Homo sapiens: one gene and its partner. The protein of the gene in region 1 purifies or fractionates together with the protein of each later gene. This does not show direct contact. Each region holds a gene or a part of one and is shown in the gene's direction. Other genes may lie near its edges.

The links. Proteins that work in one complex are often made in the same cells at the same time.
Region 2: the proteins of COL2A1 (region 1) and PLOD1 purify together in Homo sapiens (affinity purification with mass spectrometry; 2 studies listed by BioGRID and IntAct, with this or other methods). This does not show direct contact.

What each region holds. Positions count from the first base shown.
Region 1 is NC_000012.12:47,983,977-47,987,476, reverse strand, and holds part of COL2A1 (collagen alpha-1(II) chain isoform 1 precursor), read left to right. Parts: intron 1-163; coding exon 164-208; intron 209-300; coding exon 301-399; intron 400-588; coding exon 589-642; intron 643-1,033; coding exon 1,034-1,141; intron 1,142-1,511; coding exon 1,512-1,565; intron 1,566-1,650; coding exon 1,651-1,749; intron 1,750-1,889; coding exon 1,890-1,943; intron 1,944-2,383; coding exon 2,384-2,482; intron 2,483-2,877; coding exon 2,878-2,931; intron 2,932-3,336; coding exon 3,337-3,390; intron 3,391-3,500. UniProt on the Homo sapiens protein: Type II collagen is specific for cartilaginous tissues. It is essential for the normal embryonic development of the skeleton, for linear growth and for the ability of cartilage to resist compressive forces.
Region 2 is NC_000001.11:11,955,217-11,958,716, forward strand, and holds part of PLOD1 (procollagen-lysine,2-oxoglutarate 5-dioxygenase 1 isoform 2 precursor), read left to right. Parts: intron 1-1,700; coding exon 1,701-1,798; intron 1,799-2,625; coding exon 2,626-2,727; intron 2,728-3,299; coding exon 3,300-3,431; intron 3,432-3,500. UniProt on the Homo sapiens protein: Part of a complex composed of PLOD1, P3H3 and P3H4 that catalyzes hydroxylation of lysine residues in collagen alpha chains and is required for normal assembly and cross-linkling of collagen fibrils.

The sequences.
Region 1 (3,500 bases):
CTAGATGTATTCCCTTCTATCCCATCTTCCCCTTGAAACACATAGTGGGAATGTCCCTGAAATGGACAGCACCTATGCCAGGTCCCTGGATCTGGATCCTGGAGGGCTGGAGGTGGTTGGGGTTCATTCTTTGCTGCTTATTTGACAATGTCTCCCTTTTCAGGGTAACCCTGGAACAGATGGAATTCCTGGAGCCAAAGGATCTGCTGTGAGTGTTGCCCGTGGACTTTGCTACCCCAGGAGAGCCCAGTCCTGCCTCTCCCCTCTCCTGACACCCCTCCCTTCTTCTCATGCCCACAGGGTGCTCCTGGCATTGCTGGTGCTCCTGGCTTCCCTGGGCCACGGGGCCCTCCTGGCCCTCAAGGTGCAACTGGTCCTCTGGGCCCGAAAGGTCAGACGGTAAGAGCCCAAAGTGACCCCCAAGTTCCACTGACATCTCTGGAGTCAAACCCCATCACCCCTCTTTCCCATGCTCTCCTGCCCTGGCCTCACAGCGGCCTCCATCCGAGGGCATCTTGAACAGGGGTTCTGGGGAGGGGCAGGCTCCCTGGAGAGAATCTGGTGTGAGGACCTGCCTCTCTTTTCAAGGGTGAACCTGGTATTGCTGGCTTCAAAGGTGAACAAGGCCCCAAGGGAGAACCTGTGAGTATCTGCCCCCAAGCCCTTGTCTTCTCTGCTGCTGTTCTATGAGGCACAGGCCTCAGCCCCACTGACCCACCACCTCCCTCCTCCAGGGCTCTATCCCCCAATCTGGGTCCTTTCAGATTATGCCTGGAGGAGACTTAACAGGGCTGAGAAGGCCCAGATACAGCTTCAGCTCCCATCCTTGGTTTGGCTAGTGTGAACAGTTGGATCTTTAGCCCCTCTCACTTCCCTCTGCCCTGCCATGGCTCGTCCTTTATGGCCTCTCGTCCTCAAGCCCCCCCCCAGCCCTGAAACAGTTGCCAAGGCTACTTCCTTCATACTCTGAGTCGAGGCTTGCTCCAAGGCCAGGTGAAGGCTCACTCTGTTTCTCTTTTTTGCTGGTCCTCAGGGCCCTGCTGGCCCCCAGGGAGCCCCTGGACCCGCTGGTGAAGAAGGCAAGAGAGGTGCCCGTGGAGAGCCTGGTGGCGTTGGGCCCATCGGTCCCCCTGGAGAAAGAGTTAAGTGAATGTGGAGGCTCCATCCCATGGGGCCTGTGACCTCGAGAGGGAAGTGGAGTCCTTGTGGTCCGTGTTCTGGTCAAGTCTCGTGACTTTTCCGCATGTCATCCTCCTCTTTCTCCATCCACACCGCGGGGAGAGGGAGTCTGATCCTGATTTGTGCCGCCAACCACCAGACTGACATGAAATAGTCTGAGCTCCTTCCCAGGAAGCGGGGCAGGCTCCAGAAGTTAACCTCTGAGAATCCTGCAGGCCACAGCTACTGCTCCCCAGAAATTGGGGTTGGTGGGTTAGTGGGATGGACCCACTGGAGCCTGGCTGGGTTGGGGCTGTTCTCACTCACTGCCTCTCCTCCCTGTGGCTCCTTAGGGTGCTCCCGGCAACCGCGGTTTCCCAGGTCAAGATGGTCTGGCAGGTCCCAAGGTGAGTGGGAGAAGAGGGGCTGGGGTCCCTCCCTGCATCGCTGAGGTCACATGGTATCCCACTGACTCCCTGTGTACCCTTGTAGGGAGCCCCTGGAGAGCGAGGGCCCAGTGGTCTTGCTGGCCCCAAGGGAGCCAACGGTGACCCTGGCCGTCCTGGAGAACCTGGCCTTCCTGGAGCCCGGGTAAGTAGCAGAGCTGCTGTTGCCCTTGGCTTCAGACCCTCAGGCCCTTCCTGGCTGGCTCCTTCCAGCCCTGCACTGCCAGGATTGGGAGGTCCTGGGGCCGGCTCCTGACCCCACCCTCTTCTCTCTCCTGAACAAAGGGTCTCACTGGCCGCCCTGGTGATGCTGGTCCTCAAGGCAAAGTTGGCCCTTCTGTAAGTCTATCCTCTGAGGGCTGCTAGGAGGGTGGGGGGATCTCCCTGGGGAAGCAAGGGAAAAGAGAGATGGAGTTTGGGTTAGGGAGGCCTGAAGTACTGTGAATTTTGAGAATTGTGACAGGGGGTAGATGGTAGGCACTGGGGCCAGATGTAACCTGTGCAGTAGCTGTGAGCACTGAAAATGCCACCCCAGTATGCATTCGGGGCTTATCCTTGGGGGAATGATGACATCGTGTGTGCACTTTCTGGGGCAGCTTTCTAAGCTCAGCGGTGTCTTGTTGTAGATGGGCCCATGGGTGTGATGTGGTCAATCCTAGATGCTGAGCATGTGTGGCTGGTGCCTAGTCCTGGGCCTGCCATGTAGGCCCTTAGTGGATGTTGGGTGGATGGATGTGGTCAGAGTGTCTATGTTCTGAGAATGGTGTTCTGTCTTTCAGGGAGCCCCTGGTGAAGATGGTCGTCCTGGACCTCCAGGTCCTCAGGGGGCTCGTGGGCAGCCTGGTGTCATGGGTTTCCCTGGCCCCAAAGGTGCCAACGTAAGTAATAATTTGCTCTTCTATTTCCTTCCATGTGGTGCTACCTACCTCCCTGCCCTCTTGGGGAAAGGGCTGGGTCCTGAGTAGAGTTTAACCAGGGACAGTGATGAGTGGGGCTCCTGTGCCATGGGTGGCAGTGGGGGTCTGTATGTGATTTGGGGAAAATCCATGGCCCCACAGAGCCTCGGGGCATTGCGGCCATAATTGTTCCATGTGGCAGTGCCCAGCAGGCTGGTTGCCATTATGGCCCCTGAACAGAAGAGAAGGGCTGATACTTTGCTTTATCTTGGCTGTCCATCAGGATGTGGCCCCAGGCCTCAGTCCCTGCAGCCCGCTCTGCCCCCAACTCCCTCCCAAACCATCCGCCTCATGGCCCTGCCCTCTCTTTCCTTCAGGGTGAGCCTGGCAAAGCTGGTGAGAAGGGACTGCCTGGTGCTCCTGGTCTGAGGGTAAGTATCCTTCCCCGCTGCCCATGACTTGGTGTTGGCCGGGCATCTGCAGGGAGGACAGGGGAACGGCCTCCCCATGGCATGGTCCCGGGACCCCTCAGTATTGAGTGTTGATCTCTGTGGCTGAGCCCCATGCTGGCTGGGCCCTTTGGGTGTCTACACAGGGAGACTTCTGTTTGCCATTGGTCAGCAGGCCGGGGAGCTGGGGAAGGCTTCCATGCTGAGAACAGCTAAGAAAAGACGGGGCCTGGGAAGGAAGGGAGGGGAAGGTGTGGAAATGGAGCTCAGCTGGGGTACCGTGGAGGTCTGGAAACTCTGGGCCAGAAGTACCTTTGCCCAATCCTAGGGGGACTGCAAGTGGGAAGAAAAGCGTGTCATTGACTTTTCTTTTTCTCTTCTGTCTAGGGTCTTCCTGGCAAAGATGGTGAGACAGGTGCTGCAGGACCCCCTGGCCCTGCTGTAAGTACCTGCCCAGCCTCCCCAGGTGGCCCTGGGGGCAGGGGCTGGGAGGGGTGGGGGTGGGAGAGCCCATCCATTAATGGAGCTGACAGATGTGAATGTGGGCTGAG
Region 2 (3,500 bases), on another chromosome or scaffold:
AGGTGAAGGAGTCCTGGGCTAGGGGCAGGAACTCAGCTGGTGGGACAGGCAGCTTGGGAAGCAAAAGGCTACTTGACCCTTGATGCCGCAAACATCCCTGGGCCTGGCCTCATGTCTGTGGCTGGTGATGACATTGCTTTGCCGCAGGTCTTCCTGTCTTCCTGAGTGACCTCAGGCAAGTCACACCTCCTCCCCACAGGGGACTCAGTTTTCTTATCTTTACAAAAGGGAAGTGAACCGGATCCACTGATTGCTGATTTTGTGGATAAATGGGCCCTTTTGAGAATCTGATGAAAGCTACGGCTCTGCTCCCAGAGAAACGCAGAAAATGCCCTTTGCCTGTGGTTTCTGGGGGTTAAGAAGCACTGAGTTCAGATCCACGCAGGTCAGGAGCTATCTGTTTTCCTTTTTTTTTCTTCTTTTTTAAGATGGAGTCTTGCTCCATCGCCCAGGCTGGAATGCAGTGGCGAATTCTCGACTCACTGCAACCTCCGCCTCCCAGGTTCAAGTGATTCTCCTGCCTCAGCCTCCCAAGTAGCTGGGATTACAGGCGCACACCACCATGCCCGGCTAATTTTTGTATTTTTTTAGTAGAGATGGGGTTTCACCATGTTGGCCAGGCTGGTCTCGAACTCCTGACCTCAGGTGATCCACCTGCCTTGGCCTCCCAAAGTGCTGAGATTACAGACGTGAGCCATCGTGCCCAGCCCTATTTTAATTTTTAAAATAGAGACAGGGTCTCACTATGTTGCGCAGGCTTGTCTCAAACTCCTGGGCTCAAGTGATCCTCCCACCTTGGCCTCCCAAAGTGCTGGGATTACAGGTGTGCGCCAGCGTGCCCAGCTGAAATACCCATTTTCCTATGTGCAGACTAATAGGGTCAAACATGGGTATTGGGGGCCAGGCACTGTAATCCCAGCACTTTGGGAGGCCAAGGCGGGTGGATCACCAGAGGTCATGAGTTCAAGACCAGCCTGACCAACATGGTGAAACCCCGTCTCTACTAAAAATACAAAAATTAGCTGGGTGTGGTGGCATGTGCCTGTAATCCCAGCTACTCAGGAGGCTGAGGCAGGAAAATCACTTGAACCTGGGAGGCGGAGGTTGCAGTGAGCCGAGATCATGCCACTACACTCCACACTGGGCAATAGAATGAGACTCCATTTCTAAAAAACAAAAAACAAAAACACACACAAAAAACATGAGTATTGGAACCCTGCTGCAGGGGCTCCCTCCACTGGGACAAGATCTGTCCTGATCATGCCCAGGCCTCCCCTGCATGTGGCTCTGGCATTTTCTCAGTGCTGCTCTGCCTACTCAGAGAAGGCGCGTCCCAGACCCTTTCTCTTGGGGCTTCTCTGAGGTGCCTGGAGCTGGGATGTTCCAGGTCTTCGTTCTTCTCCCAGCCCCTGCTTCTGACTGTAAGTAACCACAACAAGTACAGGGGTTGCCGTGGATTCTGTGCTCATGATGGGCCAGGCTTGGTGCCCCACGCTTGTTCAACACAAATCCTCCCCCTCACCCCATGAAGAAGGGATTATTCCTATTTTATAGATGAGGAAACTGAGGCTTAGAGAGAAGTGACTTGCCCGAGGACATAATCTACTCACTGCACAGCTGGGATTTGAGCCCAGCTGGTTGGACCCTGAGCCTGACCTCTGGGTCTGATGCTGGGTGGGACTGTGCTTTCTGACCCCCAGATGAGGTCGTGCTCAAGTTTGAAATGGGCCATGTGAGAGCGAGGAACCTGGCCTATGACACCCTCCCGGTCCTGATCCATGGCAACGGGCCAACCAAGGTAGGGGGTCCCCAGCCCCTGGGGAGTGTGGGAGGGGGCCAGAGCCCTAATTTCATTCTCACTGTGACCCCACAGTGTCTCCCTGGGGCCAGGGCCACCTTCCTGGGGCCTGCTATGAACTCACTGCCTCTGTCCTCACATCTGAGCTCAGCGTGATGCCTTCTTTTCCTGCTGTGGTGGTCAGTGGTACTCTGTCTGTTCTTGCTGGTCACAGGACACGTAGGAGGCTGCCATCCCCTTCCAGGCCTAGGCTGGGCTACCAGAGCCATCTGCACTGTCACCCCAGGGCAGAGTCACTTATTCACTCAGTAAACCTTTATTTCATGTTTGCACCAGACAGTAAGACATAGTCATAAGCAGGACGGATGTCCTGCATTCATGGTGACAGAAGGGACTGGGTGCAGATGCGGCCAGGGACAGAATGGACCTCACTGGTCCCTGGGGAACTGGCTCATAGCTCATAGCATATTTGAGTGTGGTCCTTCACCGCTGGAATGAGGGAGAGGAAGGAGGATGTGATGTGTTTAAAATGCAAATTTGCTGATTTCACCCAGGATCTGTTCAGATGGAATCTCTGAGCGGGGTGGGACCCAGGAATCTGCATTTTACAAGCTCTCGGGAGAAGCACTAGAGTGCCAAGCCCTCCCCTGCCCTCTCTCAGAGCGGCTTGGTGATCTCCTGGGGATGGAGCATTATCTCCAAGACCCTCTTAGGGAGTGGGAGGGGGCTGGATGGTGCTGACCCACTGGGGGCCCAGGGAGATGTGAGTCAGGGCTATGGCAGGTGGGGCTGGCTGGCTTCTCTGTGACCCCACGTCTCCCCGACAGCTGCAGTTGAACTACCTGGGCAACTACATCCCGCGCTTCTGGACCTTCGAAACAGGCTGCACCGTGTGTGACGAAGGCTTGCGCAGCCTCAAGGGCATTGGGGTGAGGCTGCGCCCAGGCCTGTGCCTGAGGGACACGGGGGGCTCAGTCCCCTGAGATGGCGAGATGGGTGATTCTGGAATAGACTCCATTGTCTTTGGTGGAAAGTGAAGGGGTCACCTCCCTGCCTGGGGTTCTATCCCGGTTGCCACCCAAGTGCCTCCTCCTGGAAGCCCTCTCAGATTGCATGTCTCTAGCTTCCCCCGAGATGTCCAGGTTCTGGTTTCTTCTGCCTGGTCCTTCAGGCTCTCCTGCAGCCCCCTCCCCATCCCATGAACCTCATCCTCATTTATGACTCACCTCGAACACCACGCCAGCCACGATCTCCTGACAGCAGGCCCTCAACCGAGTCCTTGTTCCAGGCCTGGGCTCCTGCTGCTCTCTCCCCGGGGCACCCTCCTGCTGCTTCCCTGCCCCCCCGTACCCCCTGACTGGAGTTCCCCGGCCCGGGCACCTTTCTTGGGAAGTCTACATGCTTCTGATTCTGGCTCTGACTCCCTTGGGCCACCCTGGGGTGGAGTGGCAGTGCTGTGACTGGACACTGCTGGACTCTTGTGCCGCCCTCCCTGGTGCAGGATGAAGCTCTGCCCACGGTCCTGGTCGGCGTGTTCATCGAACAGCCCACGCCGTTTGTGTCCCTGTTCTTCCAGCGGCTCCTGCGGCTCCACTACCCCCAGAAACACATGCGACTTTTCATCCACAACCACGTGAGTAACAGGCGCTCTGTGGGGTCGTCATGTGGCTTAGATCCAGGGCCCAGCTTCACAAGGTAGCCC